4 linked regions of the Homo sapiens genome follow. The protein of the gene in region 3 interacts with the protein of the main gene of each other region in a biochemical or structural test. Each region holds a gene or a part of one and is shown on either strand. Other genes may lie near its edges. The genes, in order: BMP4, BMP2, BMPR2 and GDF2.

Region 1 (9,285 bases), on a different chromosome or scaffold from region 3:
CAGAGCCCAACTTTCACAACTTCCAGTTGGTTCAGAGCCAGAGGGAGGGAAAGTGAGAGGCAGGGGCTGGGCGAAGACAGAGGGCGACAGGGTCCAGAAGCCGAGAAGGTGGTCTGGGAGCTAACCGGGTGGCTTGAGGGCTTATTTTATTGTGGCCGATGAGTTTGAAATATTCAGCCAAAAGTGCCTGATCGTGCCCGCTCATCCCCAGGGAAGGGGTGAGAGACGATTCCGGAGAGACCTCTGTGAGTTTTGACAAGAGAGTGGGAACGCGCCACGGAGACACTGGGGGCTCTCCCAGACAAGTTGGATAGGGGAAGGGAGTGGTTAGCCCTCAAGGTACAACCCCGGGCTTTCATCTCTTTAGCTCCCTCGCGCTCCCCTTTCTTGCAACGCTGAGAGGGCGAGTGCGCGCTAGCAGCACTTTAAAAGGAACCCGTACGCTTCCAGCGCCCCGGCTGCCGGGCCAAGAAGGGAGCGACAGTGCTGCCAGGGAGCAGAGTGTGGATATTGTAAAGGAGGTCCGACGGAAGGGACAGCCGGCGAGCAGGGGTGGTGAGGGCAGAGTGAATTCCGGGGAGGGGGAAGGAAGAGGTGTCTACTCACTGACAGAAAACAAGGCATATAATAACAGTCCATGATTCTTGACAGCCAATCTTGAACAAACTTGCTGGAAAGGCTCAGGGAAGCTGCAGCAGTGCGTTGCTCGGGATGGCACTACGGAATGGCTCCTAAAAGGAATATTTGAATATAATGAGACTCCACCGCAGACAGGCTCTGTTTTTCTTCCAGCCCCTCGGAGTCACGTGAGCGCCGAGGCCCCTCCCGCGGCAGGCGGCGAAAGGGCTTGCGCGCCCTCCCCTCCTCCACAGCCCCCCGCCCCTCGCGGGCCCGCCCCTCCAGGCGAGGCCAACCTCCGCGCCCGCCGCCCGAGCCTCAGCGGTCCGGGAGGAGCTCCCGGCGGCGCTCGGCAGAGCCCTCGGCCGGTGCCCCGCGGCCGCCGCGCTCCCAGGGCTACTGGCGCAGCGCACGGAGAACCCGGTTCTCGGCGCGGTGCGTCGTGCTGGGCCCCCGCGCCGGGCCACCTGAAGCCAGAGGATTTGGGGCGCACTGAAGGGACTGCGTCTCCCAGCTCGAACCCGGCTTAAGTGGGGCCGGGAGCGAGGTCGGGAAAGTCTCACCCGCCCAAAGCCTCACCACCGAGAGGCACTTAAAAAGGAAAGCGCAGAGGGACCCTGCCCACGCGCGTGTACACACACACCCCCCCACACACACACAAGCAAACACGAGCTCCCCGCCACTTCCTCCCCAGGGTCTCCTCAAGGCCAAATATTGCTCCCAATGACAGCCAGTCACCCCTTGGCGAACGCCTGCTAAGGCTCCGAAGAGCCGGGCCACCGATCTAGCTCCCGGCTGAAAGCAGCCGACCTTGTCACGCGCGGGGCCGGGAATGGGAGGGAGGGTGTTAGAGGGTGATCGCTGTGGGAAAGTGAGAGGGAGCGGCTGTTAGTCATTGCTCCGGGTCCATTACCGAGAATCCCCAAACCTAGTCCGCCGCTGCGTGGCCCCTCTCCCCATGCAAAGCAGACCCCCGAAGAAGCCATGCCAGGCTGAGGGACAGACGCCGGGGCTCGAAGCTCCGGGCAGATTCAGAAAGAGGCGTCGCTGCAGAAAGGACGCATCACAGTTTTCAGATCTTAATGTGGCCGAGGTTTTACAACTCCCGACCCGGCGCAGAAAGGAAATCCCACCATGTTCCCCGGAGTCGAGAAAACGGTGAACAGCTTTCGGCCTGCGCTCGACCTCTGCGTCTGCGTCTCTCTCGCCTCGGCTTCCCTTATTTTTTAAACCACCACCACACTCCTTCCCCCGCCACTTCCTTCCCCCACCCCCTTCCTCCGTTGCACCAGCAGCAGAGTCGCACGCAGCAAATACTCCTTCAAGAATTTTACCTACCTACAGTTCAAGCAGTTACTGGGATGTCCTGACTAATCGAAGATGCTGCCGCGCGCGTGGGTCGCTCTGCGCAAGGGCCTCTTCGAAAACCCGACTAGGCGCAACTCAGCGTTCAGCAGGGCCGGGAGCGCCAGGTCGTCCCCGGGGCCCGGGCCCCATGACTCCTGCCCCAAAGCCCACTCCACCCGACCTCCCTTTCCTGAGGCTGTTCCCAGTTGCTGCTTTGGGTCGCTCCGGAGCTCAAGAACTCGGGTTGCCTGCCGCCCCACTCTCCACGCACATACTTGGTTTTCTTCTTAGGGGCATTGGCAGGTAGACTTTGAGGAAGAAAAGTAAAGGATCGAACAGCTCAGCCCTCCCTCCCGACCGTGGATGCCCGGAGTCGACCAACACCTCAGGTCCGGGTGCGGAGGCCGCGGGCGCCCCTGCGCGACCGTCCGCGCCCGGCAAGAGCCGCGCGGCTTTCGCCTTTGCTGGTCCCGCGCCACCGCTGGGGCGGGCTGCGAAAGGGTTGGGAAGAGCAAAGGGTTTTTTTGTTTTGTTTTGAGACGCAGAAGCCCTTTAAAAAGCCCGGCGAGGAGAGGTCCAGAAGTAGAGAAAGCAGACGGAGGCAAGCTGTGCCCGCGGGGCAAAGGGACAGTAGAAGGGGCGGGCGCCCGGGTTCCCCGGAAAACCCTCGGCCCCAAGGAATCTCCTGGGGCGGGAGAGCGCGGTTCTAAAACCGAGAGGATAGGAAGGGGAAGGGGGAGTTGTGTTTCAATTTCGGATTCACCAGGATTCATCTCTAGTCACATTTTTCTTCTCAAATTTTTAAATCGAAAAGATAAAAGCCAAAAGAACTTTCATCCCCAGAGCTTTTTATTGGGGGAAAGGAATGTAACTCGGGGTGGTTGTCCTTCACTTCCCTACTCGAATCTTCTCCTAATGCCGAAATGTGTTTACAGGTAGCCTCAGTTTACCAAGTATGTATCTTTTGGGGGTTTAACCTCTCACAAAGCCTTCAACTCACAAACCGCGATCCTTGGAAACCATCCTCCAAAGCAGTGCTTGGAGGCCTCTAAGGCCCCCGGACCAACTCCCGCTGGAAGAAGCCTGCAGGGACTCGGGAATCACGGGAACCTTTCCCGTCGGTTCCGGGCCTGGAGGGCCAGGAAGAGCCGCGCGTCCGCCTTTCGTCCCGCCAGGAACTCCCCATAGGACACGACACCGCAGGAACAAGCGTCCTGGGAGCCCCTGGGATCTTGGCTGTCGTCTCTAGGGACCCTACACCGTGAAATGATAGAGGCGAGGTTCCTTGGGTTCCGCAAGTCGACGAAAATAGCTCGTGGAGAAGGCGCGTCCTGCAACTGCAGTTCGCAAGCTCTCAGGGCGCCCCGCCAGCTGGGGGCCAGATTGGGTGACACTCCCCTCGACGCAGCCTCCGGAGCGGCGCGCACTCTCCAGAGGCCAGCAGGACTGCGCTCTCTACCGCAGAACCTGCTCCAGCTAGGTGTTCTCTCCCCATCTCGCCGTCGCTCTGCCCCCTCACTCTCTCTGGACCTCAGAGCCGGTTCTCTCCTTCCTCCTCCCGCGCTTTCCGTCCGGGGATCGCAACCTCCAGCCCGTGGGCAACGCGTTCAGCCCAAGACCCCACAGTTTTTCCCAACGACCCCCCTACCAAGGGCTTCTCTTGTTTCTGCTCTCCTGCCCCGCACTTCCCAAAGGTGAGAATCTCCCAGGGACTGCTGGACAGAGAAGGCCTGGGCAGGGGCAGTAGCCGATATTTAAAGGTCTTTCAGCGCCAGCATCCCCACCTCCAGCACCACTATTGGAAAATAATTAGGCCACCTTTTGCCTCGGTCACAGCCTGTGACCAGCTTCTTCCCCCCAAGGAGGCTCCTAGACCCCCTCTGCCTGTCTCCCCTCACCAGGTAGCCTTGCTCACCATAGGTCCCTGCAGTAGCGGGCTCGCCAGCAGCAGCTCCTGGGGACCTCTGAACGGTTGCAGTGAACCTGGGCGAGGGCCGGGGACTGTGGCGCTGCAGGCTCGAGATAGCTTGGACGGGAATCCCATCGGGGAGACAAGCTAGATACTCAGCCGGAGCAGCAGCGGCGTCTCAGGCTCGCGTCCCTCAGCTCGGATGCCACACTCACCTAGCTTCCGGGCCGGGCTCCGCGCTCCTTCCCTCCCTCCCTCCTCCTCTGCCTTCTCGCATCTTCCTTCCTCCTCTTTCCCTCCCTCGCTTTCTTTCTTTCCTTCCTCCTCCTCTTCCCCGGCGGCCCCTCCCTCCTTCCCTCCTCCCTCGCTCGCCTCCCTTTCTGGGGATGGGAGCCCCGCCCACATCCTCCCCTCCAGCCGCCCGACCTCGCCTAGCAGGCCCGGGTCCCGGAAGCCCAGGCAGCGCCCGAGTCCGCAGCTGCCGTCGGAGCTGGGACGCCGCTGCCTCCAGCTCTGGGAAGCGGCTGGGGCTCACCTGGGGACCACGTGCGGAGGTACTAGAAAGCATGCACCGACTAGTCGCCGTACCTTCCAAAAATACCCATGGGAGTCTGGGCTTCCCTGAGTTTAGTGTAACTGCTGCCCAAACTGATGATTAAAACACTGAGTAATCACCATTTACCCTGAGTAATTAGAGATAATGAAACACCTCTAAAATCAGGTTATGGAGAAAGGAGCTGTTGGATCGGTTTAAAAGGTGGCCTTCCATAAACTGTTAAAAGATTTCCAAACGTTGAGAAACAGGCTGTGTGCAGAACTGTGTGCCAGAGAGAGATACCTCTTGGGCTGTTAAAAGGTGAATTTCCTTCCAAAACATTCTTAAAGTGCGTTTTGTAGAACACCTTGGTGATGACCCTGAGGTAGACCCCAGTAAATGAGCTCACTTCCCTCCTCCCCCCAAGGCCTAAAGACAGAGGTGGCCTGCAGACAGGCTGGGGCCACGTTTTTTACAGTTAGAAAAATCTGTTTCTAGCTCAGAAGCCGTCTTAAGAACCGACACAGCAGTTATTTTTGTTGGTGTTATGGTTGTTGTTGATTTTTTTGTTCATTTTTGGTGTACCTAAGAGTCCTGACACTCTGTCTTTCCAAGGAGATAACCACAGAAGCAGTAACCTTTTAGGCCACAGGGAGACAAGAAAAGATGCCCCTTGGTCTGTTTTTAAAGGAAGAGGGGAGATGAGGAATTGGCCCTTTCATATAAAAACATTTTAGTAATCATATTAGCAGGGAGGTGGAATGTGGTGGCTTTTAAACCTTCCCAAACAGGAACTAATTTCACACACTGCCTCTGATGGAGCTGTGAGGGAGCTATCAGCCTCATCTCTCTGTTTTACAAACAAGGAAAGGCAGGACTACCAGGTTAAAGGGACTTGCCCAGATCTCTGAAGTAAATCACAGCCTCTGCTCCAGAGCTAATGCTTCAGGGAGGGGTTGAGGCTCATAGCCTGAGCTCCAGGTAGCCAGAGGAGTGCTGGAAGACTGAGCATTTCCTGTCCTGGATTTCTTTCCCTGGGACAGACATGACACTTTACTGTCTCTGCAAAGCATTTAGGTCTTTACTTAAACAGATATTGGCCCTGGGTGGCTCATCTATAAAAACTTTACGTTTATACACCTTCGATATTTAAAAAACAAGAACTACTTCCTGTGTGGAACACAGATTACAAAGGGTGGGAAATATCTGAGATCAGAGAAGCAACTGTCAGAGCAAGGCCAAGACATCCTGCCATCTTTTCCATCTATTAGGCCTAGGTCTTTTGGCCTAATGCACCAAACAACAGAAACAAGCTGTATGGCTTTGGGCAAGTCTTTTCATTCCTATGAGTCTCAGTTTTCTCATCTGCAGAATGAAAGGATTGGGCCAGATCATCTGCATGCTCCCTTTATATTTGAAAATGATTTGATTATTTAATTGTAATTTTAGCCAAAGTCCGTCTTCCTTCATTTTAAGTCACTCCTGAGTTCACTTTCTCTAAGAACCACTGATTAAAACAGGGCAGGGCAATAACACCACCCCAAAAGGAGGACAAAATATACCTGTAGCTTCCAAATAGTCAAAATCACAATTAATTATTAAAAATAATAACAGAAAATTAAAACTCCATTAAATAGTTACCTAATGTTTCTCCTGCAGCATCAGGCATTGTGCTCCTTTAGCATGGTACCTGAAGTCAGGACAGATTAAATGCTCACTGAGCCCCTAAATCAATCACTGTTGTTTTAATCATTAACGAAATGTGGTTCTTAATATTTAAACTCAGAAACAACAGTGATATGCTGGACTTAAAGGCAGGACTTTATTTTACTTTAAAGCACCAATGTCATTTCGGGGTTTTTTTAATTCCAAAGGTTTTTGAATGACAGCTATTGTCTCATTTTGCTGCAGCCCAGACACTAAAGTGGCCACTGATTGGCCCATCCATGAGTCTGTGACACTCACAGTCCAGGAGTTTCCAATTAAGCTACCCGACATACCATGTTTAGACCCCTGATATGAATCTTCAGATATATGACGAGAGAACTCAGCTTTAGTTCTCTTGGGACAGCTTTATTTCTCTCCCCACATTTTAGATGGGCGCAAGCCATCTGTTATCAGCTGCTTTTACCCACTCCTCCTTTTCCCCCCTTACTCATGCCAAAGAACAAATTACTTGTTGGTTAGAGAGCTAAATCAACCACAGCCTAGTGATCAGAGTTCGTGAGAAGAATCAGTTTAGTTATTTTCTGTATCTCAAACTTACCTGTGAATTTTCATGTTTTTATAGAACATGGTAGATAGACCAAATGAAACTGTACCCTTAAAGCACATTGATGAAGAGGGGAAACCCACCATAATTCAGGAGCAACTATTGCTCCTATGCTGCTACTACTCAATGAAAGGCATTCCTTTGTTGGGTTTTTCCTGGAGAACATCAAGAAAGAGTAGCTGGTCAATAGCCTGTCTGCGAGCCCTTGGGACAGCCTTTTTCAAAGCATGTTCTCAGGACTATAAGCCTCAGAGTAGGGTGGGGGTGCAGATGAAATGCAGACTTCCTGGTCCTGCCCCAGATCTGGACCCAGAAATCTGTATATTTCACAAGGTTCTCTGGTCATTCTGAGCACACTAAAGCTTGAGAGCTACTGTTTTAAAAGTTATTTTGTTTCCATTTTCTATGCTGATAAGTACCATTAAAAGGCTGATACCAAGACATCATTAAACAGGCAAAGAATATGCTGGGCTTGAACTTTATAAACTGTTAAATATGGCAATTATAGTATCACTATGCCCTGAACACACCAAATAGGTCTATGCAAGTGAAAAGATAATCCTATAGATACAGTAGCCCTTAATTCCCCATCCCCAATTAAGAACCACATCAGGTCTTCAAACCTTCTTGGCCAATTAGGTGTCTGGTGAAGCTACGGAAGGAATTCCCAGAATCACTGCTAAGTTTTGAGAAGCAGTAAGATAGATCAATTGGAATTGGAATTCGAATTCGAATTGGAATTGGAAGTGGTCTCTGAAATTGGCTAGAAATTTAGTTTTCCTCTTATTAATATTTATCATATCTTATATATTTGCCCTATATATCTCTAGCCCTTACAACAACCCTTATAAAATCCCTGTCCTACAGATGAGAATCTGAAGTTTAGAGACGTTATGTAAGTTGCTCAAGGTCACAAAGCTAGAAAGTGGTGGACCCCAAGTCCAAACCATGTCAGTCTGTCTCCTCTCCCTGGGCAAGTGAGGGGTATTGTGGATGGATCCCCGAGGCTTATCCTGGAAGCTTTCCCCAGGCCAAGGCACCAGCTGCTGCTCCATCCTGGCAGCATGCTATTACCAGGAATTTCAGGATATCTTCCCAAGTTCTTAGATAACAAAACAAAATCAAGACCTAGAAGTTTGTTTCTTCCTGACGTTACTATATAAGCCCGCCTTAGGGCAAGACTTTTATGTGACCTTTCCTGAGAAAAAGGTTATGATCTTGAGAAAGGAGCTCATTATCTCTGCTGGGTCCAAGTTTCCTCATTGTAAAATGTGGAGCTTGAACAGGGTCCTCACAGGTCTTTCTCAGGCTCTGGAATACAGAGACAATATATCCTGGTAGTTAAAATCACAGTCAAATTGCTTAATCTCCAATGTCCACTCATTATGCTTTGTCTATATAGATCTGACCCATGAACATAGCTGTGCCAAGATAACTACTCACTGTCAAAATCATACCTACTCTGAGCAATTAGTTTTTACTAATAGGCTGAGACTGAATGACATGTCCAAAAAGCATTCTCCGTCTGTTTTGCGGATTCCTAACACCTCTAACTTTTAAGAATTTTTTTTCCTGTCCCTCAAGCTAAAACATAAACTCATTTTCTTTATTCTGATCTAAAGATGAACTTTTAACCCAATTGCACAAGTTGTTCCTTCTCTAAACATTTAATATTGTTGCCAACCTTTGATATGCCTCACTCAAAGTAAATAATACTGGATGCTGATATTTTCTCATGACAAAAAGAAAATCCAATGCTATTTCAGTTCCCTATGTTTTAAATTGCTGCCTTGATACTTTCTGGAATATGGTCCTTTCTATAAAAACCCTTCAATATTAACATCCAAGCCAGGTGCGGTGGCTCACACCTGTAATCCCAGCACTTTGGGAGGCCAAGGCAGGTGGATACCGAGGTCAGGAGATCGAGACCATCCTGGCTAACATGGTGAAAACCCATCTTAACTAAAAATATAAAAAATTAGCCAGGCATGGTGGCGGGCGCCTGTAGTCCCAGCTACTCGGAAGGCTGAGGCAGGAGAATGGCGTGAACCCAGGAGGCGGAGCTTGCAGTGAGCTGAGATCACGCCACTGCACTCCAGCCTGGGCGACAGAGTGAGACTCTGTCTCAAAAACAACAACAAAAACAACAACAAACAAACAAAAATCCAAAATGGACAGAGACTTCTAAATGAACCCCCAGTGATATCAGACAGATGAAAAGACTGTTTTTATGTCATAACATGTTTAACGTGGATGGCAGACAGGGCATGGATATGAAAAGTCTTTTCTAAGGAATGATCAGGATGGGATTGGCATGCAATGACAGATATTTGGGTTTTGACTATTCTCAGCTTCCTCTCCTAAAAAAATAGTCGACTGCACTCATTTAATTCTACAACAGGGATGCTCTTTGAAAATAAATTATTTTAGAGGATATAAAAAAGATTAAACCTTGAAATTTCTTTGTTTTGTGCTCATACATCCTTCTCCTTCTCTTTTTCTGACCCCAGTGTGTGGGAACAGTGTAACCTGAACAAGAACGTAGTGTCTATAGGATGAGTGACACTTGGAAGCAGAGGCAGAGTGCTACATGGACACCTGACT
Region 2 (9,218 bases), on a different chromosome or scaffold from region 3:
ACCCTTCATTATCCCAAACGTTTGAGCTTCGGTCGGTCTTACCTAGACTCGTGAGTGTGCCAAGCCAGGAGGGCATCCTGGAGGAGGCACGCCAGCCAAATGGGAGACCGGGCCGCGGGGGCGCGAGGGGGGAGGACTGGGCGGGGAACTCGGGTGACTCACGTCGGTCCTGTCCGCAGGTCGACCATGGTGGCCGGGACCCGCTGTCTTCTAGCGTTGCTGCTTCCCCAGGTCCTCCTGGGCGGCGCGGCTGGCCTCGTTCCGGAGCTGGGCCGCAGGAAGTTCGCGGCGGCGTCGTCGGGCCGCCCCTCATCCCAGCCCTCTGACGAGGTCCTGAGCGAGTTCGAGTTGCGGCTGCTCAGCATGTTCGGCCTGAAACAGAGACCCACCCCCAGCAGGGACGCCGTGGTGCCCCCCTACATGCTAGACCTGTATCGCAGGCACTCAGGTCAGCCGGGCTCACCCGCCCCAGACCACCGGTTGGAGAGGGCAGCCAGCCGAGCCAACACTGTGCGCAGCTTCCACCATGAAGGTGAGGCATGGAGCAGGGCGTGGGGGCGGGGAGTCACCCTGCAAAGCCCTCCACCGTGGGCAGACTGCAGCCGTCCCTGTAGAGGCAGCTTGGCCGGGGCACCAGCGGACGTTTCCACTCTTGCTTCTGTACTATCGTTTCTGAATCTGATTTTAACTCACTGCTTGTGTGGTGGGGGAGCCAGGGATTCCCCTTTAGTAACTCCGCACCCTCTTCCTGGCTTGCAGCCAGAAGAGCTACTCCTCCTGGAAGAATTGGAGAGAAATCAAGTGATGGGGAAGATGAGGGCAAAAGGCATGCCTCTAGTCAGCTAAACGTGCAAGAATTCCACAGAGGGAAAAGGAGAAAAAGGGAGGCAGATTGAGATTTCTTTAAGTCTGTTTGGAAGCTTTTGCTCTATAAATCTGCCGCTTAAGCCAGGGTTTTAGGGTAGACAGAGCCAAGGGCAGAGTTTTCAGAGATAGTATTGAAAAATCAAAGCCCAGGGCCCCAAAGTCTTTCTAATTTATAGTTGATCTGGGCCTGGTTTGGAAGATTTTGAATCCCAATCTAATCCCCGTGGGAGATCAATACTACAATCAATCTTATTGTTTCCACAATGACTTTCTTGTCCTGTGCTTAAATCTGAGATAGGCTCTGAGTAGAGACAAGGCAAGCCTTCAGATAAAAGCGTTTGTAGCAGCTGCCTGTTTTTTTTTCATGTGCACCGAAATGTGGATTTTTTTTTCTTTTATGATACTACATGTGGTTTTTCTAAGGTGGGATATTTCTGCTTGTTTCATCAGAAGGGCATTTAGTGGACTGGAAATGTCTTACAGCAGCTATTGAGGTCTGCTGTACCTAAGTTCTTAGAGCAATTAGTCAAAAATATGTTCCACTTCAATTCTTTTTCTACACTTTTAAATGCTTCTTTGGCTTAATACATTTAAAATAGAGCATGGGTTTCTTCAATTCCTAGAAAAGAGTACAAAAGTGTATATCACAGAGCAACCACTTGGCAGATATTTGGGGAGTTGGGAGTGAAGTTCTCTTTCTTGCCTTTCCCTGCTTAGGTGGTAAATTTCAAGTGGGAAATTTACACTGATAATAGACTAATGGGAAATGGCACTTCCAGATGTTTTCTCCCAGTGTGAAGGGTGACTTATACTTGTGAGAGTATTTGTTGGTAATGGGAATAAGTCCCAAAGGCAAGCCACATAGCAGAAGATACGTTCTCATTGAGGCAGCTACACATTACGACGGGGACACTGAATTGATCATCAGTTCATTTACAAGCACATTTCTAAGTGAGGTGCTCTCTGCTAGCAGAAATCAGATTTGAAAGGCAGTAAGATCTCACTCCACTCTTTCAGAATTCATCCAATGAAAGCAGAAATCACCTGTTGTCATATGTAAAATTTGTGTGTATGTGTACATTCTGCCATCTTAACCCTGAAATGATTATAGATCCAGCTAATCATTCCCAGGTAATGCTGATTAGAATACTTTTTTTTTTGTATAGGAATGTAATAAGAACAACTGTTTTAGACACCTCTTCTGGAAATTTAGCATGGAAGCTCTCAACTTTATTTTTAAGGCCTGGAAGATGCTGTGTCTCTGTTACAACTTAAAAGGAAGATCATTTAAGTTAGTTAACACCTAAAACATTCCATTGTGTGAGGATTTTATCAGTGATGTCTGCATATTCTCATCATTCATCTAGAAGTGGTTTGATCAGAACTAAACAGGCTACACGTTATTCAACTGTGTTATTTTAACTTAAAAAGCATGCTTGAGTTTATAAAATCAGAATTTATATCTTTGTGAGTGTAAATGTTACCTGAGAAACAGTACAGAAGTGACCAACTTGATTAAAATCAACTTGTAATAACTTCAGGTCTTAATGCAGTTAGATAATGGAGAAAAGCTATGTAATTTTGCCCCAAATTTCAACTAATCCATTTCTTGTCTCATTATGACTAATATATCATCCTTAATCTGGATGGATATAGCACTTTTTTCAAGACTAATCATTGTTGTATACACCCAGGATTTGCTTTTGATAAACATCCTTGTGCCATGCATGCCACGAAAAAAGTTTTTGGTAAACCATGTGATGAAGGTTGCTGGCTCAAGAACAGAATTTAGTTTCTACAGCATTAATGAGCATTTATTTGAAAAAAGACCATAAAGACCCAATCATAAGAATTACCTGTTGGGTTTTCTTTGTAGGTGTGATCGAATGGTTTGGTGGAATTACTCGACGAGATATCATGATAGCATTCTTTCAACCAATATGAGTATAATGCGACCATATCATAGGGGATCTGAGACAGAATTATCAGTTGTATTTTTCCTATTGAATTTTGTCTAGTCCTTTCTCCAGTGGCTTTTATTTGGGAGAATATCAGCTTTGCTAAAATGTTATTGTTTTCAAGATCATTAAAAAGTGCTTCAGCTACATAGACCTTTGGAAACTGCCATTGAACATAGAAAAGTCAGTTCTGCAAGTGGAAAGAGTGTTTTGTGTATTGCTGTAGTTGGAAACACATTGAAACTGGTTGACTTCACTGGCCCTCCAAAAAGTCTTTATGCTTTTTTGTCAGATGGGAGAGAGAAAGACCAGGTGCTTCTTGTTCTCCTCACTCTGAAGGACACAGTCTTCTTTCTACATGAAATAACTGGATTATTTGCCTCTGTGACTGAAGCTTTCAAATAGAGATTAACCCTCTTTCCACAAATATAATTATTATGAAAATATCCATATAATAGAAAAGTTCAAGAAATAACTATTGCCCTGCATTAGAGACTTTGTGGCACAAATTCCCCCGTGCAAACAACAGATTTGGACACATAGATCCACCAAAACCAATACTTACCTGGTATGGTTCCCTAGTGGCCCCAGGTATTTCATTGTCATTACAGAGGCCACATTAAGTAGGAAAATTACTCTATTTGGAAATGGTTGTTGAGATTGAGGCTTTGGTGTCCAGTGATACTTCCTTGGCACTGACATTTTCCGTTCCACCTGTTTTTTAGTGGTTCCCCTAAATTTCTCTTAATCCCTTTGCAGTGAACTATTTTGCGTTCTTAGACTTGCTCTTTGTGTATTTTCACTGAGACAATAAGAGAATATTTCATCATTCCGAAGGTGTTGGTGTTAAGGGTGGGCAGAGGCCAAATCAGGGTTGTTGATGACAACCATGCTCTCTATTCCTTTATTTGCCATTCCCTTGTTGTATTTTTTTTAAAATGGAATGTTTTTAACCTTTTGTATTTGATATTTTTTTTCTCCTTGATCAGTTGTCTGTTATTTTATTATCTGGAAAATCTTATATTATACTCAGCCTCTTTCATTTTGTGTTAGGGCAGTGACTTCCAGCCTTACTGATTGCCAGCATATCCCCAGGTTTTGTTGTTGTTGTTGTTGTTTTACTGGAGATTTTTTAGCCCAAAGTGTGTTTTAAAATCCTCGAAGCATAACGGTAACTTACTTTTTTGATAAAACTTACCATACTTTATTTAGAACAAAAGGGCAGCCACAAAATAGCAGTGGCTCCTTATAAAATAGACACATTCCAGTGGGCCCCGTCACTTTTCTGCTCATTTCTGTCTGTTCTGTCCATCATACCTAAGTCATATATTTCTGTTCATTTAGTTGGGACAGAACTCACCCAATGTTATCATTGTACTAAATATAAATGTGCCCCTAATGGTTTTGACTTTTGCTTAAGTTTTTGAGTCCTCATGTATGTTAGGTAGTGCCATCTAGTAGCCAGAAATTTGGGAACTGGCTGGGCATGATGGCTAATACCTGTAATCCCAGCACTTTGGGAGGCTTAGGTGGGTGGATCACTTGAGGTCAGGAGTTCCAGACCAGCCTGGCCAACATGGTGAAACCACATCTCTACTAAAATATAAAAAAATAGCCAGGTATGATGGCCCATGCCTGTAATCCGAGCTAATTGGGAGGCTGAGATGGGAGGACTGCTTGAACCTGGGAGGTGGAGGCTGCTGTGAGCCAAGATTGTGCCACTGCACTCCAGCCTGGGCAACAGAGTGAGACCCTGTGTCACAAAAACAAGAAACAAAACAAAACAAAAGACAAGAAACCTGAGAAGCGCAGTAGATTCAATTATATATATCTACTTTTAATTTGCTAGCTCTGTGACCTTAGGAAAGTTACATAACCTCTCTGAACTGCAACTGTTTCATTTACAAAATGGAGATAATGATAGTTTTTCTCTAATTGGTTTGTTGTGAGATAATTCATATAAAGCTGATGGTGCCAGATTACACTCAAAAAAAGCATTCAGCTGTCATTATCATTATGACTTCTTTTGTTAATGTTATAGCCTTTCCTTCTCTAGGGAAAAGGAGGCCAGAGTGGACCTAGGCTGACTGAGAGAATTCAGCTCAGTCTTTTGAATTATTTTGAGGTAGAGGAATGATTGATATAGTATAGATTATTAAATTAGGACTTCACTTTTGGAGAAAAGTTCAGATATCATTGTTGTCTTATTTTTCTTCACTTTCCCACATTTTTGCAGCCATAGCTCCATCCATTTGGTTAAGAACTTAGAAGCTCACAAACTCGGGTCAAAGACAGGTCGAAATCCTCAAATCCCTTAAGAACTTCAGCTTATTCAGGAAGGGATATTTACAGAAAACTAGCAATTGTATAAGTCTCCAAAAAAGCATACATTACTTGAGGATCCATATATTTTTGGCATCCTCAGGGTTGCTGTGATGATTTATAGAAGGTTTGTTTATTTAATTTACTTTATTTCAAATAGGTTTTAATTTTTGTACCCTTAAGAAAAGATTCGTACTCTTCCCTGGCAGATTAAAGAAAATGAGCGTATATTCCCTAACCTTGGCCAGTTACTTTCCTGGGTTTGAGGGTTTCTGTGAACGTCTAACTTACCTCTGTGACCTGTTTCTGCAACCAGGGGTGTTGCAATGGATGCTTTTGTCTTGAGGATGGGACCTTTCAAGAAACAGATTCACTGAGGTGCAGTGGGAAGGTCAGAGAAAGATCTTCGTATCGCCTATTATTATTTGCTCGTCTATTTTTTCTCCTTTCTTAAGGCCACTAACTGATTCTCCTTTGCTAAGGCTGCCTACTTCCACTGAGACCTTGAACCACATGAAATTGTTGTTGTCTGTGTTTCTGGTCAAATAGTGGCAATTTTGTATGATTCAATCTTGTCATTTAATTTTTTGGGAGGTTATTATTCTATTTCATACCTTTTTTATACCCATCTTCTTTACTTCATTTACCTGTCCCTCATACTTGACTTGTAGCTTGTCCCTTCACTGTCATCGTCTGGCCATGTGGGTGTGTACGTGTGTGCGAGAGAGAGAATGTGTGAGAATGTATGTTTCTTTATGCATTGGGATTTAGGGTTTTTCTTGCAATTGTGATTTCTCTGGGCACTTTTGTTAATATAGCTAGTCAGCGAGTGCTCTAGATAATTTTCCTTGCCTCCCCCTCTTTGAAAGAAAAGAGGGTGTTCTTAGATGTATTCTTATCAGATAAGCCAGTAGCTCAGGTGCTGGTCTGGCTTTGGTGTCATTGGGGTCTGAGGTTGCTGACTTTTACCTTCTCTGCTGAAAAATTACCTTCAGCAGAAACGTCTGAATTGCAAGGAGAAGGAGAAAAAAACAGGCCAAACACAGTCCTTGGTACTCCTTGGGAGCCACTGAGAAGAGTCCAGGTTCAAATGGTCAGAAGGTTATTTTAATGATTGTGTCTGGCCTAAAGTACCATTAGCTTCCAGTGGAGTTTAGAATGTGGATGGATCCTGAAAGGTATTCCCCAGAGGTTTGGATTAATAGGCACAAGGGAACCCTAAAGGACTCTATTGGCCTGATACTCCCCATATCCACGTAGAAGAGCTTTAGAAGAACCTTCTGTTCTGAGACCCTGGCTGGGCCCACCCAGAGCTGGCCCATTCAACTCTTACTCCTTTGCCACCACTAATGGTTCTTCTACTAGTTTTTATATTATTTAACAAAAAGGCACTTTAAAAATGCACTCCTGGCAATCTATACTGGAATATGAAAAACATGCTGCAAAACCTTGACACTCCAAGTGTGGTCTTACAGTTCCCAGAATCCCCTCCTTGAGGAGCTGCTAGAAATGCTGAATCTCAAGCATCTCCCCAGACCTACTGAATCAGAGCCTGCATCTGAAGCTTTACGGTGTACAAGCTGTTTTATGTGAAGGCTGAAGTTTGAAAAGCACTGCATTAAAGCGTTAGTTTGGTATAAACTGCCCTGACTGAACTTGGTGTGTCCACTTAGCTTGCATGATGACTGTTGCTTTGATGATGAAGGCTTACACGGGTAGATCCTTTGAGTGAGTGATCTGACATGATTCTCCTTTGCTAAGGCATCTAGATTCAGTGCACAACTTACAGCTGTTTGTCTTTAGGGGAAATACAACTGTAAAATTAATAAAAACATAGTCTCTTCTTATGATAACATGGAACGATGGCAAAATAGATTTTGTTAGCACTTGGGTAGGAATTCTGAATGAAGCAGGCAAATTCTGTTGGCAGTGAAATGATAGGATGTGGTAAAGTTAGAATAAAATAAACTTAAATGTCTCAAACTCTCATGGTATATACTACCAGTTTAATAATAATGTTGTACCTTTGATGATTTGCAGACTACAAGCATTCAAGGTGCTGTGTTATATATTACTTGCTTGGAGAATAATACTTCTTAAAAATTGAAATTCAGAAATTTTAAATCAGACAAAGCTTTTGTGCATGGCCCACTTAAATGGCTATTTTGAAATAATGATAGTGGATATAGAAGGATTATTCTGTAATAGGATGAGACTGTTCCTTTTGTCATGGAGATCATAATCATATTTTTGTAAATTTTTATTATTTTTTTGGTTTTGTGTCCATCCTGCACACTATTACTGGGTAGGTACATGGTTTTTTAACATGGTTTATCTTTCAAAACTATAAAGGCATTGCAAACAGAAGACAGGTCATTTATTTTTCTTCCAAAAGCATCTAAAATGAGATTTTGATATTTGAGGTCATAAAGAGGTGAGAGAACAGACAACAGTTGGGAAAGCTATTTCTCTTGAAATTGTTTGGCCTTAATTACTACAGTGTCCTAGTACCACCCATACGTTTCCAAAGAAGTAGATCCCTGTAAATGCCTTTGTCTCTGGACTTTTGAGTAAAATAGTAGGGTGTGCTTTGCAAAATGTCATCGTTGATGTTGAGTTTCAGAGTCTTTAATTAGGAAGCTGAAATCTGTATATCGAGATTTGTAAATCATCTAAATTGCAGAGTAATGTTTTAGAATACTGCTTAAGGGATTGGCATTAAAGCCTTTTTTAAAAAAGAAATGCAATAATTTCCTCAAATCCTCACTCATTAGACCTCTACTAACTATAGTGCTGACTTTTTTTTTTTTTTACCCTAAAGTCTGGAATTCCAAAGAAATGCTTCACCATTTCCCCCATTATTATAGCCACCTGGAAGCAGTATTCATGTATTAGATCAAAAACACAACAAAGAATTATGAAAGGTTGTTTCCTGGTATGCAATGCATGATGACATGAACTTACAGAACAGAGAGAAGGGAGGCTCCATGTTTATTTAAAGAGGAAATTTTTATTTTCTGGTTACCTACTTTTACATGGGTTACATCAAATCCCACGATGAGGTTTAAAAATTCTCATAGATAATCAAACGTCATTACTTGGCTTACTGAAATTCAGACTTTTCTTTTTTCTTCCCTGTTTTTCTCTATCAAATTAGAATCTTTGGAAGAACTACCAGAAACGAGTGGGAAAACAACCCGGAGATTCTTCTTTAATTTAAGTTCTATCCCCACGGAGGAGTTTATCACCTCAGCAGAGCTTCAGGTTTTCCGAGAACAGATGCAAGATGCTTTAGGAAACAATAGCAGTTTCCATCACCGAATTAATATTTATGAAATCATAAAACCTGCAACAGCCAACTCGAAATTCCCCGTGACCAGACTTTTGGACACCAGGTTGGTGAATCAGAATGCAAGCAGGTGGGAAAGTTTTGATGTCACCCCCGCTGTGATGCGGTGGACTGCACAGGGACACGCCAACCATGGATTCGTGGTGGAAGTGGCCCACTTGGAGGAGAAACAAGGTGTCTCCAAGAGACATGTTAGGATAAGCAGGTCTTTGCACCAAGATGAACACAGCTGGTCACAGATAAGGCCATTGCTAGTAACTTTTGGCCATGATGGAAAAGGGCATCCTCTCCACAAAAGAGAAAAACGTCAAGCCAAACACAAACAGCGGAAACGCCTTAAGTCCAGCTGTAAGAGACACCCTTTGTACGTGGACTTCAGTGACGTGGGGTGGAATGACTGGATTGTGGCTCCCCCGGGGTATCACGCCTTTTACTGCCACGGAGAATGCCCTTTTCCTCTGGCTGATCATCTGAACTCCACTAATCATGCCATTGTTCAGACGTTGGTCAACTCTGTTAACTCTAAGATTCCTAAGGCATGCTGTGTCCCGACAGAACTCAGTGCTATCTCGATGCTGTACCTTGACGAGAATGAAAAGGTTGTATTAAAGAACTATCAGGACATGGTTGTGGAGGGTTGTGGGTGTCGCTAGTACAGCAAAATTAAATACATAAATATATATATATATATATATTTTAGAAAAAAGAAAAAAACAAACAAA
Region 3 (9,218 bases):
AACTATGAACTTGCCTATCTAACCACTGTTTCACTGACACTAAGGTTTGTAGACTTCCTATCTAATGCTCTTTCTTATAGAATATACTACTACTACTTTTATATGAAAGCAATTCAAAGGTCTTTCTGTTCCATCATTAATATTATTTTACAAGACATTTTCTTTGTTAGAACTATGATTTTTGGTTCTAAATAGAAAGGCTTTTTAAAAATTCCTACAATTTGGAACTTTCTACATCTGTATTTCTTTTTTCCATGTTTGGGGTAAAAAAGCCTTTCTATGACTTTGTCATTTTGTCTAATACATGTTTAAAACTTTCAGAAAGGCATCCAGGAAAGGGTTACTGGAGAAAATTGAAATAAAAATAAACTCGATTCTTGAAACTTTTTTTTTTTCTGTGTGGTTTTTGTTTTTTTTTGTTTGTTTGTTTTTGGAAACTGTGTCTTACTCTGTCCCCCAGGCTGGAGTGCAGTGGCGTGATCCTGGCTCACTGCAACCTCTGCCTCCCAGGTTTAAGCGATTCTCCTGCCTCGGCCTCCCGAGTAGCTGAGATTACAGTCACGAGCCACCACGCCCAGCTAATTTTGTATATTTATTAGAGACAGGGTTTCACCATGTTAGCCAGACTGGTCTCAAACTCCCGACCCCTGGTGATCTGCCTGCCTTGGCCTCCCAAAATGCTGGGATTATAGGCGACAGGTGTGAGCCACCGTGCCCGGCCTATTTTCTGTTCTAATTTGTGAAAGCTATTTGTATTAGCCATAGGTGAAAAATTTGGTTTGCACTACTTTTGTATAGGTCAAATTAGTTTCAAATATAAACTCTTATACCTTGTATATCAGCAAATCAAGAAAGTTAGACACTGGCAATTCTAATTATAAATTTTCTCACTTTACACATACCTGAGGACAGTCTTCTGCTTTTATCTCCCCTCATCTCTGTATTTCCCATGTCCTCTAGTATGATGTTTTTACCTCTCTCAAAAGTCAGCTAAAGCTTTTATTTTGAATGCTTTCAAACTTTTCTTGAATGGTAAGAAAAAAAAACCTTGATGGCCCACCTTGATTTGGCCACTTTTCGCCTCCTGTGTCATTCGGCTCAACCTTCTGCATGCATCTTCTCATCTCCAGTCTCTACTAATAATTTCCTCAAAATTATAATTCATCCCATAGTTACGCTAACTCTAGGTTTTATTTTCCTGAGTCTTACCCTCCATGTCTCCTTAGCTTCCTTTTCTTGTACTGTATAACAATTTTTTTTTCTTCTTTTCCTTCTATCATCTCCCTTATAAATAACTGTCACTCCCAAGGAATGACAATGACAGCAAAGAACCCATGATAATTGGAGAGCAGTTCTGAATCTTTGATCCTTTATTTGAACATCATATTCTGCCTTATACCTTAGGCTCAAGGACTTTTACTGATATGACTCAGACTACCCCAGAAAGATATGTGCCATTACTAGGGCATGCCTCTTAATGGAGGCCTTTGGAACAACCTAAAAGCTTATATTCTTTTTACTATTTGGCCATTGGAACTTAATTGATAACATACCTTTTGAGTAGGCACTATGCATCTAGAATTATGGAAATACAGAAAACATATACCATGGTTCTTCCTCTCATAAAACATAACGTCTGGTTGTATGAATATACATTCCATAAATATATATTTCATGATGTTATAAAACTATAGGGGAGATTTTTTAATTAACTTATAAACCAAAATAATGAACATTTATAAAAATTATATCTCATCCACATACATTTTTCAGTAGGCTTAATTCACATAAAACTAACACTTATCAAGTTATTAATTGACACTTGATTATTTGATTAGACTTTTTAACCTTTAGAAAAATGTACGTTTGGAAGAAAATGAAAAACAACTCAGACTTTAAAATCAGAGGTGTTAAATTTGGAGAGACAGTTTGTCATAAATGTACGTTCTCAATGTGATACTTTTTTTCTTTCTTTAAGCAACCTGTCACATAATAGGCGTGTGCCAAAAATTGGTCCTTATCCAGATTATTCTTCCTCCTCATACATTGAAGACTCTATCCATCATACTGACAGCATCGTGAAGAATATTTCCTCTGAGCATTCTATGTCCAGCACACCTTTGACTATAGGGGAAAAAAACCGAAATTCAATTAACTATGAACGACAGCAAGCACAAGCTCGAATCCCCAGCCCTGAAACAAGTGTCACCAGCCTCTCCACCAACACAACAACCACAAACACCACAGGACTCACGCCAAGTACTGGCATGACTACTATATCTGAGATGCCATACCCAGATGAAACAAATCTGCATACCACAAATGTTGCACAGTCAATTGGGCCAACCCCTGTCTGCTTACAGCTGACAGAAGAAGACTTGGAAACCAACAAGCTAGACCCAAAAGAAGTTGATAAGAACCTCAAGGAAAGCTCTGATGAGAATCTCATGGAGCACTCTCTTAAACAGTTCAGTGGCCCAGACCCACTGAGCAGTACTAGTTCTAGCTTGCTTTACCCACTCATAAAACTTGCAGTAGAAGCAACTGGACAGCAGGACTTCACACAGACTGCAAATGGCCAAGCATGTTTGATTCCTGATGTTCTGCCTACTCAGATCTATCCTCTCCCCAAGCAGCAGAACCTTCCCAAGAGACCTACTAGTTTGCCTTTGAACACCAAAAATTCAACAAAAGAGCCCCGGCTAAAATTTGGCAGCAAGCACAAATCAAACTTGAAACAAGTCGAAACTGGAGTTGCCAAGATGAATACAATCAATGCAGCAGAACCTCATGTGGTGACAGTCACCATGAATGGTGTGGCAGGTAGAAACCACAGTGTTAACTCCCATGCTGCCACAACCCAATATGCCAATGGGACAGTACTATCTGGCCAAACAACCAACATAGTGACACATAGGGCCCAAGAAATGTTGCAGAATCAGTTTATTGGTGAGGACACCCGGCTGAATATTAATTCCAGTCCTGATGAGCATGAGCCTTTACTGAGACGAGAGCAACAAGCTGGCCATGATGAAGGTGTTCTGGATCGTCTTGTGGACAGGAGGGAACGGCCACTAGAAGGTGGCCGAACTAATTCCAATAACAACAACAGCAATCCATGTTCAGAACAAGATGTTCTTGCACAGGGTGTTCCAAGCACAGCAGCAGATCCTGGGCCATCAAAGCCCAGAAGAGCACAGAGGCCTAATTCTCTGGATCTTTCAGCCACAAATGTCCTGGATGGCAGCAGTATACAGAGTAAGTGGAGGGATCATATAATCTCTCCTGTGTGTCTTTTGGGGCCATTTAAATAACTATTTAGAATCAACTAATAGATATATTTCAACTAGTGATTATTTACCTTTACCACTTTTGTAAATGATCCATTTGAGGCGGGGCACAGTGGCTCACACCTGTAATCCTAGCACTTTGGGAGGCCAAGGGAGGTGGATCACCTGAGGTCAGGAGTTCAAGACCAACCTGGCCAACATGGCGAAACCCCATCTCTACTAAAAAATAAAAAAAATTAGGCCAGGCGCGGTGGCTCACGCCTGTAATCCCAGCACTTTGGGAGGCCAAGGCGGGCAGATTACTTGAGATCAGGAGTTCAAGACCAGCCTGGCCAACATGGTGAAACCCCATCTCTAAAAAATACAAAAATTAGCCAGGCGTGGTGGCGTGCACCTGTAATCCCAGCCGAGATCACGACACTTCACTCTAGCCTGGGCAAAAAAGTGAAACTCCATCTCAATAATGAAATAAAATAAACCATTTGGGCCAGGCGTGGTGGCTCATGCCTATAATTCCAGCACTTTGTGAGGCCAGGGCAGGTGGATCACCTGAGGTCAGGAGTTCGAGACCAGCCTGACCAACATGGTGAAACCCCGTCTCTACTAAAAATGCAAAAATGGCCAGGCACAGTGGCTCATGCCTATAACCCAGCACTTTGGGAGGCTGAGGCAGGTGGATCACGAGGTCAAGAGTTCAAGATCAGCCTGGCCAAGGTGGTGAAACCCCTGTGTCTACTAAAAATACAAAAAATTAGCCGCGTGTGGTGGTGGGCACCTGTAATCCCAGCTACTCGGAAGGCTGAGGCAGAGAATTGCTTGAACCCAGGAGGCGGAGGTTGCAATGAGCCGAGACTATGCCACTGCACTCCAGCCTGGGTGACAGAATGAAACTCTGTCTCAAACACACACACACACACACACACACACACACACACACACACACACACACACAAATTAGCTGGGTGTGGTGGTGCCCACCTGTAATCCCAGCTACTTGGGAAGCTGAGGCAGGAGAATCGCCTTAACCCAGGAGGCGGAGGTTGCAGTGAGCTGAGATTGCGCCATTGTACTCCAGCCTGGGCAGCAAGAGCGAAACTCCATCTCAGGAAAAAAAATAAATAAGCCATTTGGTTGGGCCTCAAAGGTAATTAGACTATTGTAAAGAAAAAAGTAATATTTTTGTCATTGATAATTAAAAAGTCAGTGTCACAATAGTCAGAATAATTACCCAATTTAATATGTGCTTTATGTGGCTGCTGCTTTATAATGCAACTCACATACTTGCTATGAAAAGTTGAAATAAAGTAAATACAGTTCAAGAGCTCCAAGTAATGTTATACCAGTATAATCTTTGAAACATTTTATTGCATATATTAATATTGATTATGTCTGCATTTAGGTTTTATCAAACTAACCTTAATAAATCTTAAAGATCCAGAGAAATTTTGGGAAAATTACTATAAAGAAACTGTAGGCTAGGCACGGTGGCTCACGCCTGTAATCCCAGTGCTGTGGAAGACTGAGGTGGGTGGGTCACTTGAGGCCAGGAGTTCAAGACTAGCCTGGGCAACATAGCAAAACTCCATCTCTACAAAAAATTTAAAACTTAGTTTGGTGTGGTGGTCTGCAACCTCTGCCTCCCGGGTTCAAGTGATTCTCCTGCCTCAGCCTCCCGAGTAGCTGGGATTACAGACATGTGCCACCATGCCCTGCTAATTATTGTATTTTAGTAAAGGAGGGGTTTCGCCATGTTGGCCAGGCTGGTCTCGAACACTGGACTTCAGGTGATCCACCCACCTCAGTGTCCCACAGTGCTGGCATTACAGGCGTGAACCACTGCGCCCAGCCTATTTCTCTTTTAGACTAAGGCATTTATGAAAAAAAGTTATGTTTTATTGTCAAGGGCTACAAAATGGGCTTGAAGGAAGGATACAGGTCTCAAAACACAATCAGGAAAATTTAGCCCCTTGCTTGAGTGGCTTGTATTACAGATCAGTTGACAGACCTTTATTGCAGGGCTCTGAGTCAGTAAGACATCGTGTCAGATAGGCCAGGCATGGTGGCTTACGCCTGTAATCCCAGCACTTTGGGAGGCTGAGGCGGGCGGATCACCTGAGGTCGGGAGTTCGAGACCAACCTGACCAACATGGAGAAACCCGGTCTCTACTAAAAATACAAAAGTAGCCAGACGTGGTGGCACATGCCTGTAATCCCAGATACTTGGGAGGCTGAGGCAGGTGACTTGCTTGAACCTGGGAGGCAGAGGTTGCGGTGAGCCGAGATCATGTCATTGCACTCCAGCCTGGCAACAAGAATGAAACTCCATCTCAAAAAAAAAAAAAAAAAAATCTTGTCAGATATAGGAAGAGGAAATTATTAGAATGTTTGTACTCTAATATTTCTGTTATTCTTCTGAAAAATATTGTATGCCAGGTGCCTTTAAAATTTGATCCAGGCTGGGCATGGTGGCTCACACCTGTAATCCCAGCACTTAGGGAGGCTGAGTCGGGCACATTGCCTGAGCTCAGGAGTTTGAGACCACCCTCGGCAAGATGGTGAAACCCCCCGTCTCTACTAAAATACAAAAAATTAGCTGGTCATGGTGGCATGCGCCTGTAGTCCCGGCTACTTGAGAGGCTGAGGCGTGAGAATCACTTGAGCCCGGGAAACAGAGGTTGCAGTGAGTCAAGATCATGCCACTGCACTCCAGCCTGGGCTACAGAGTGAGACTCCATCCCCCAAAAAAAAAAAAAAAATTTGATCCACCTTGAGCATTAAATACAATTAAATACAATAATTAAGTACATTTTACCAAGTTAAGATCGCTACCAAAACCAGAAGATTTGAGAATACAGCTGAGAAGTTTAAATGTTCTCCTGTGTTTTGTGTGTGTGTGTTTTCCCTTGCCTTATAAAATAAGTCAATCAGTTATTAAAACATTTGGGTTAAAGAGTCTCAAAAATAAGTTGGTTAAGCTTTTCCTGGAAAAACATTGTCTGGCATTATGAATTTCAAGAAATGTTCATTAGCACCCTCCTGAGACATTGGTTTGACCTTTTCTTGAGTTACATCCCTTACCCGTTATTTCTTAAGTTTGTTAAATAGCTCATTTTTCTGCACTTTTATTTTCAGTAGGTGAGTCAACACAAGATGGCAAATCAGGATCAGGTGAAAAGATCAAGAAACGTGTGAAAACTCCCTATTCTCTTAAGCGGTGGCGCCCCTCCACCTGGGTCATCTCCACTGAATCGCTGGACTGTGAAGTCAACAATAATGGCAGTAACAGGGCAGTTCATTCCAAATCCAGCACTGCTGTTTACCTTGCAGAAGGAGGCACTGCTACAACCATGGTGTCTAAAGATATAGGAATGAACTGTCTGTGAAATGTTTTCAAGCCTATGGAGTGAAATTATTTTTTGCATCATTTAAACATGCAGAAGATGTTTAAAAATAAAAAAAAAACTGCTTTATCCTCCTGTCAGCACCCCCTCCCACCCCTGCAACAAAGACTTGCTTTAAATAGATTTCAGCTATGCAGAAAAATTTAGCTTATGCTTCCATATTTTTAAATTTTGTTTTTTAAGTTTTGCACTTTTGTTTAGTCTCGCTAAAGTTATATTTGTCTGTTATGACCACAGAGTTATATGTGTGTGTATCAAAAGTGGTCTCAAAATATTTTTTTAAGAAAAAAAGCAAAAACAATGTATTGCTGATAATCAGTTTGGACCAGTTTCTTAAGGTCATTAAAACAGAAGCAAATTAAGACAGGTTTGACTGCAGTGGTGTCTGGTATCCATGTTTTATTTCTGGGCACAAGCTAGTTTTTATGTTGATACGTTCCTGAACATATTATCTTGTTGGACATCTTTTCTCTTGTGTTTTGTTTGAATGTGCAATAGTTTATAGGCCACAAATAAGCTTTCTTGTAAGCTCTCTTCCTAACAGGGCACATATTCTTCCATAATATAAACACTTTTCTGCCCCATCTCCCATACTTTTGAAGGTCAGTTCTATGACAGTGAATTTTGCACAGGAGAAGCAGCTACCTGATTTCTTACTTTCTCTCTCCTTATCATGGAGAATACAGAAACATTGTCTGAAAGGGCTCTAAAGAAGGAACTACCAAAACCTGACTTGAAATGCCATTTCTTTTAACCTTCCAAATCCTAAATGTTTCCTTCAAGGCATCTTAATAAACTTATTTGCTTCTGGTTTTGGGAGTTCATAAGAGAGAATAGAACAAAATACAGGACATCAAATATTAGCCATTTCCCATTTTATTTTATTTTTCTATGTAGGTTCATGTTCCATGTTCATTTATTTAAGAAATACATTTTTATTGGTAAGCTTATAGAGCTACACTTATGGAATTTTTAAGTAGGTAAATAAATGGTTAAGACAAAATAGTGTTATAGCCTTCATTCTCTGAATAGGCCATCTTTGACTCATAAAATTACCCTTACTGTTTATTATAACTTCAGAAGTAATTTATAGTTCTGAACCTATAGTATCTTTTACCCTGTTCCCAAGCAAAGACTGGTGACTTTATCTGAAAATGATTCCTCTTCCCATGACCTAAAACACTGTGAGGAAAAATCATTCAAGTGGCATGCCAAGTCCCTATGAAGGAAGGGCTGCTATCAAACCTACCTTTTTTGAGCAAACTGAGACTAAACTTCTCTCTTTTCAAAATTGTGTTATCTTCCTTAATCCTATTTTCATAATTTTTCCTTTTGCCAGTTTTTCACATTATCTTTGATATGTGAGCAACATTTATTATTTACATTAGAGTATACCTTTTAGTAATAAAATGACTTGAAATCATATTATTTTTAAAAGCCCTTTGCTTCTTTCATTACTTATAATCTCCTCTAAAACAACCTCTGCATGTTTTTTTTAAATAAAGCACTTTCTGTCAAATAATGGACTTTTTTCTAAACAGAAATTATTTTCTATTAATTTGCAAACTGATGATTTCACTTTTTTTTACTTTTTTTTCGATTATCAGAGTACTTAGTAAATGTTATATAGTTTAGTTCTAAGATAGTTCCAGGGATTAAAAGGTTAAGAGGAAAACACAAATCACCAAATTTCTGATTTATGTTTTTATCTCCTGAACAATATTTTCTCACTCATATTCCTCTATCTTATCACTTAGCTAAAGACAGCCTAAATTTCCCAATTTTCTGTCCAAAATATTTGTGATTTACTTGTATATAAGCCTTCTCATTTGCCATGTGCTGTGATCTTACAAGTTAGATGTTACTATACCTACCATTTATTCAGCTGGATTGCTGAACACAGTTCTGGATTCATAGAATTAAGAATATCTTGTTAGTGCCCAGGATTTCCACGTTTTGTGTTTTATTGGCCCTTTTCTTTATTCAGCCCCTTAATCTATTTTCAGTCTTCTGGCACGTAATTTTTTTCACAGTTATTATTCTTCTATTAACAAATTATTTTTATCTTTCCTAGTACATTTTCACTTAGTTCTCTTGCCCTTAAATATCTTTCACATGCATTTTAGGATATTCTTTTCAAATATTTGTAGGACAACTTTGAATCAAAATAAATTATGTTCCTTCTCCAATTTGAAGCATTGAGGATAAATGACCATTTGAGGTCTAACTGATCTTTTCCTGCCAGAAGAGTTATCTTACGTTCTGCTATATTTGTATTTGGGCCAGTTGATTGTAGGTTGTCCAACATTTTTTAATATTGGGAAAATTATGATAAAATGCTTTAAAAATTAATATGCCAGATTAAAATAACTGAATAGTTTACTATTTCATTCAAGCATGTTTAAAACAAATAATTTCCTTTCACCAGTTTTTCTTAGTAAACTCCTGAAAAAGTAGGAAAGGTGGAAAGTATATATCATTTTTATAAATTTTAAATTGTACATCAGACTTTTAAAATCTGTAATAT
Region 4 (4,853 bases), on a different chromosome or scaffold from region 3:
AGCAGGAGCGTGCTAATGACAAAGTGTCAGCCCAGGATAAATGGGATATCGAGATAACTATGTGGCTAAAAGCCAAGCCCCATTTTTGCTTGACATGACAAAGCAATTGAAGCTAATAGATTTTGTTCCTGAAACACTAAAACCAATTATCCACTTTTGCTTTGTTTGGAAATTACAATTTCAAACGATTTATACACTGTTTAGAGGCTGAGATTTTTGATATTGTCTTAATATTGGGGTTTCACTGTCCCCACCCAGGATCTCTCCTTTAAATTCATACACTCAGGATCTTCACTCAGGATCTGACAGTGAGTTTTTCTGTTTTCTTTATGTACTCAATAGCTGTGTGCTAGTAAGTCCCAGAATACTTAACTAGCTGTATGCATTTTGGCAATTAACTGCCTTGAATCCCAGTCTCCACATCTGCAAATGTGGAATAATAATTAGATCCTCCCAGGGTAAGTGAGAGGATTAAGGTGAAATGTATTCTGCAAAGCTCCCAGTGTAATGCCTGGCACATAGTAGATGCTCGATAAACAGTAGGAACTCTCAATCCCAATTGGAGGCATCTCCTTTGGAAGATCTTAAGTGTACCTTTCAAAATACTCTTATACTTTAAGGGCTTGGGTGAAACCAAATAGAGATAATACAGACCAAAATTGTTATCCCAGATGCTCTTCTGTCTAAACCCTGAGACTCAGCTTCAGTGTCATGGAAACAGACCCTCCAGCAGATGCCCACCACGTGTGTTTGCATTTCAGATGCCATCTCCATAACTGCCACAGAGGACTTCCCCTTCCAGAAGCACATCTTGCTCTTCAACATCTCCATTCCTAGGCATGAGCAGATCACCAGAGCTGAGCTCCGACTCTATGTCTCCTGTCAAAATCACGTGGACCCCTCTCATGACCTGAAAGGAAGCGTGGTCATTTATGATGTTCTGGATGGAACAGATGCCTGGGATAGTGCTACAGAGACCAAGACCTTCCTGGTGTCCCAGGACATTCAGGATGAGGGCTGGGAGACCTTGGAAGTGTCCAGCGCCGTGAAGCGCTGGGTCCGGTCCGACTCCACCAAGAGCAAAAATAAGCTGGAAGTGACTGTGGAGAGCCACAGGAAGGGCTGCGACACGCTGGACATCAGTGTCCCCCCAGGTTCCAGAAACCTGCCCTTCTTTGTTGTCTTCTCCAATGACCACAGCAGTGGGACCAAGGAGACCAGGCTGGAGCTGAGGGAGATGATCAGCCATGAACAAGAGAGCGTGCTCAAGAAGCTGTCCAAGGACGGCTCCACAGAGGCAGGTGAGAGCAGTCACGAGGAGGACACGGATGGCCACGTGGCTGCGGGGTCGACTTTAGCCAGGCGGAAAAGGAGCGCCGGGGCTGGCAGCCACTGTCAAAAGACCTCCCTGCGGGTAAACTTCGAGGACATCGGCTGGGACAGCTGGATCATTGCACCCAAGGAGTATGAAGCCTACGAGTGTAAGGGCGGCTGCTTCTTCCCCTTGGCTGACGATGTGACGCCGACGAAACACGCTATCGTGCAGACCCTGGTGCATCTCAAGTTCCCCACAAAGGTGGGCAAGGCCTGCTGTGTGCCCACCAAACTGAGCCCCATCTCCGTCCTCTACAAGGATGACATGGGGGTGCCCACCCTCAAGTACCATTACGAGGGCATGAGCGTGGCAGAGTGTGGGTGCAGGTAGTATCTGCCTGCGGGGCTGGGGAGGCAGGCCAAAGGGGCTCCACATGAGAGGTCCTGCATGCCCCTGGGCACAACAAGGACTGATTCAATCTGCATGCCAGCCTGGAGGAGGAAAGGGAGCCTGCTCTCCCTCCCCACACCCCACCCAAAGCATACACCGCTGAGCTCAACTGCCAGGGAAGGCTAAGGAAATGGGGATTTGAGCACAACAGGAAAGCCTGGGAGGGTTGTTGGGATGCAAGGAGGTGATGAAAAGGAGACAGGGGGAAAAATAATCCATAGTCAGCAGAAAACAACAGCAGTGAGCCAGAGGAGCACAGGCGGGCAGGTCACTGCAGAGACTGATGGAAGTTAGAGAGGTGGAGGAGGCCAGCTCGCTCCAAAACCCTTGGGGAGTAGAGGGAAGGAGCAGGCCGCGTGTCACACCCATCATTGTATGTTATTTCCCACAACCCAGTTGGAGGGGCATGGCTTCCAATTTAGAGACATAAAACACAGGCAGATCAAGTAGCATTGATCAATGGCATGATTCCAACTCAGATTTGTGGGACACCAAAGCCCAGGATCTTCCCAAGTGCCCTGCTGCAGTTTAGCAGGTCCTCTCCAGCTAAAGAGCAGTGAGACATTGGGAGCCCAGGAGTGTTGAGGCCAGGCCAGGCTGAGGCCCATCAGTCACAGGTGTGACTGGGCTGCTTGTCACACACAGGGCGTGGTCTGGCCACTGTTGCCAGTGCTCACTCAGCGGCCACATGCTTTTTAATATGACCCCTGAGGCACTGAAAAATAACCCCAGGCCAACTGCAGGATAGAGAGAGAGGTCAGGACAGCAGCCCTGTGGGCTGCATGATACACTGTGGCTGGAGTTATTGTGACCCCCTGGTGCAGTGCTCCCACGGCCAGTGGTGCACACAGGGCCATTCACTGTCCATAGACTGAAACCATGTGACCATTTGAGAGGGCCGGGCACACTTTCCCCTGAGGGATGGGGCAGCCTGTGGCCAGCACCTCTGCAGTTACTCTGCATAGCCAGCTCACCAGCATGCCATGCCCAGGGTGCCCCCCAGTGACAACCTCATGGGAGACGGGCCTGGATTTGAATTTGTTGGAATTAAATGTGCTCTGGCTTTGGTCTTTGAAACATATCTATTTTTATTCCTTGGTGACATGTCCTTAAGTGACAAGACTCCAGCCTTCCTGGGCGAGGCCTCTCCAGCCTCGGAAGAGCTGCAGTCCTTATCGGCTATCACTGGCTCTGCCTGCATTTGCCGGCTCTCTTGAGTCACGTGCATCCCAGCACCCCGCCTGGGCTCGGACTGTGGGACCAGACTCAGCCTCCCCGAACACAAGGGAAGATAAGGCTTCCATTTGCTCTGTGTTTCACCCTCTCCTCTGTCTCTCCAGGCCACACATGGAACGGGGCGGTATGAGGAAGAGTCTGAAAGTGGTGAAGAGTGCACCTATGGCCCTCTGACCTCCAGCCAGAGCAGGGCCTAGGGGAGGCTTAGAGAGGCCAGGGCCTCTCCCCGTGGTTGAAGCTCCCATTTATTTAAGAAAAAGTGGGGGGTGGGGAAAACGTTATGTTAAATGTTTACATGGAACCAATGAACAACTTTAACACACAAATACAACGAAACATTCTTGTTTAATTACTGGCGTTATAGAAAATATGAATTCCTGCTACATGCCGGGCAGTGTAGTGTTACAATGCTATTCCAAGTTGGGTGTTGAGCATCTTCTTTCAGTCCTGGTGGTGTGCTTCTGTGCCTGCTTGAAAATTTCACTCGGAAATAAAGTCAAATGTCTAATTTGCAGCCCCTCCTGAATGTGAGACCCAATCTGGAGGACCCTATAGACTCATACCCTGCCTACCCCACCCTCCAGACCCCACTGGGTTGGGCCTCCCCTTCCTAAGGAGGCAGAGGGGAGGGGCAGGCAGCCATCTCAGGACTGGGTGGATGCAGGTGGGTGGTGTCTGCACACTGGGGTGAGTGATGTGGTGTGTGCACATTGGGGTGAGTGATGTGTTTGCACACTGGGGTGAGTAATGTGTGTGCACACTGGAGTGAGTGATGCAGTGTGTGCACACTGGGGTAATATGTGTGCACACTGCAGTGAGTGATGTGTGTGCGCACTGGGGTGAGTGATGTGTGTGCACACTGGGGTGAGTGATGTGATGTGCACACTGGTGTGAGTGATGTGTGCACACATTGGGGTGAGTGACGTGATGTGCACACTGGAGTGATGTGTGTGCACACTGGAGTGAGTGATGTGTGTGCACACTGGGGTGAGTGATGTGTGCACACATTGGGGTGAGTAATGTGTGTGCACACTGGAGTGAGTGATGTGTGTGCACACTGGGGTGAGTGGTGTGTGTGCACACTGGTGTGAGTGATGTGTGCACACATTGGGGTGAGTGATGTGAAGTGCACACTGGAATGAGTGATGTGTGTGCACACTGGGGTGAGTGATGTGTGTGCACCCTGGGGTGAGTGATGTGGTGTGTGCACATTGGGGTGAATGATGTGTGTGCACACTGGGGTGAGTGATGCAGTGTGTGCACACTGGGGTAATGTGTGTGCACACTGGGGTGAGTGATGTGTGTGCACACTGGGGTGAGTGATGTGGTGTGTGCACACTGGGGTGAGTGATGTGTGCACACTGGAGTGAGTCATGTGTGCACACATTGGGGTGAGTGATGTGATGTGCACGCTGGTATGAGTGATGTGATGTGCACGCTGGGGTGAGTGATGTGTGTGCACACTGGGATGAGTGATCTGTGTGCACGCTGGGGTGAGTGATGTGTGTGCACACTGGGGTAAGTGATGTGTGTACACCCTGGGGTGAGTGATGTGTGTGCACACTGGGGCGAGTGATGTGTGTGCACCCTGGGGTGAGTGATGTGTGTGCACCCTGGGGTGAGTGATGTGATGTGCACACTGGGGTGAGTGATGTGTGTGCACCCTGGGGTGAGTGATGCGGTGTGTGCACACTGGAGTGAGTGATGTGATGTGCACACTGGGGTGAGTGATGTGTGTGCACACGGGGGTGAGTGATTCAGTGTGTGCACCCTGGGGTGAGTGATGCGGTGTGTGCACACTGGGGTGAGTGATGTGGTGTGTGCACACTGAGGGGGGTGAGTGACGTGGTGT

Evidence for each region.
Region 1: the proteins of BMPR2 (region 3) and BMP4 form a complex in vitro, tested with the Homo sapiens proteins (2 studies listed by BioGRID).
Region 2: the proteins of BMPR2 (region 3) and BMP2 form a complex in vitro, tested with the Homo sapiens proteins (4 studies listed by BioGRID and IntAct, with this or other methods).
Region 4: the proteins of BMPR2 (region 3) and GDF2 form a complex in vitro, tested with the Homo sapiens proteins (2 studies listed by BioGRID).

The regions. Positions count from the first base shown.
Region 1 is NC_000014.9:53,952,670-53,961,954, forward strand, and holds the start of BMP4 (bone morphogenetic protein 4 isoform a preproprotein), read right to left. Parts: upstream 4,157-9,285; 5' UTR 4,152-4,156; coding exon of another isoform or gene 4,090-4,151; 5' UTR 3,881-4,089; intron 3,660-3,880; coding exon of another isoform or gene 3,232-3,659; exon of another isoform or gene 1,513-3,231; intron 732-1,512; coding exon of another isoform or gene 607-731; intron 1-606. Other genes in the region: uncharacterized protein LOC124903317, read left to right, coding at 3,232-3,659, 9,192-9,240.
Region 2 is NC_000020.11:6,769,941-6,779,158, forward strand, and holds part of BMP2 (bone morphogenetic protein 2 preproprotein), read left to right. Parts: intron 1-179; 5' UTR 180-186; coding exon 187-532; intron 533-8,304; coding exon 8,305-9,149; 3' UTR 9,150-9,218. UniProt on the Homo sapiens protein: Growth factor of the TGF-beta superfamily that plays essential roles in many developmental processes, including cardiogenesis, neurogenesis, and osteogenesis. Induces cartilage and bone formation.
Region 3 is NC_000002.12:202,553,274-202,562,491, forward strand, and holds part of BMPR2 (bone morphogenetic protein receptor type-2 precursor), read left to right. Parts: intron 1-1,978; coding exon 1,979-3,258; intron 3,259-6,422; coding exon 6,423-6,673; 3' UTR 6,674-9,218. UniProt on the Homo sapiens protein: On ligand binding, forms a receptor complex consisting of two type II and two type I transmembrane serine/threonine kinases.
Region 4 is NC_000010.11:47,324,080-47,328,932, forward strand, and holds the end of GDF2 (growth/differentiation factor 2 preproprotein), read left to right. Parts: intron 1-761; coding exon 762-1,705; 3' UTR 1,706-3,509; downstream 3,510-4,853. UniProt on the Homo sapiens protein: Potent circulating inhibitor of angiogenesis. Signals through the type I activin receptor ACVRL1 but not other Alks. Signaling through SMAD1 in endothelial cells requires TGF-beta coreceptor endoglin/ENG.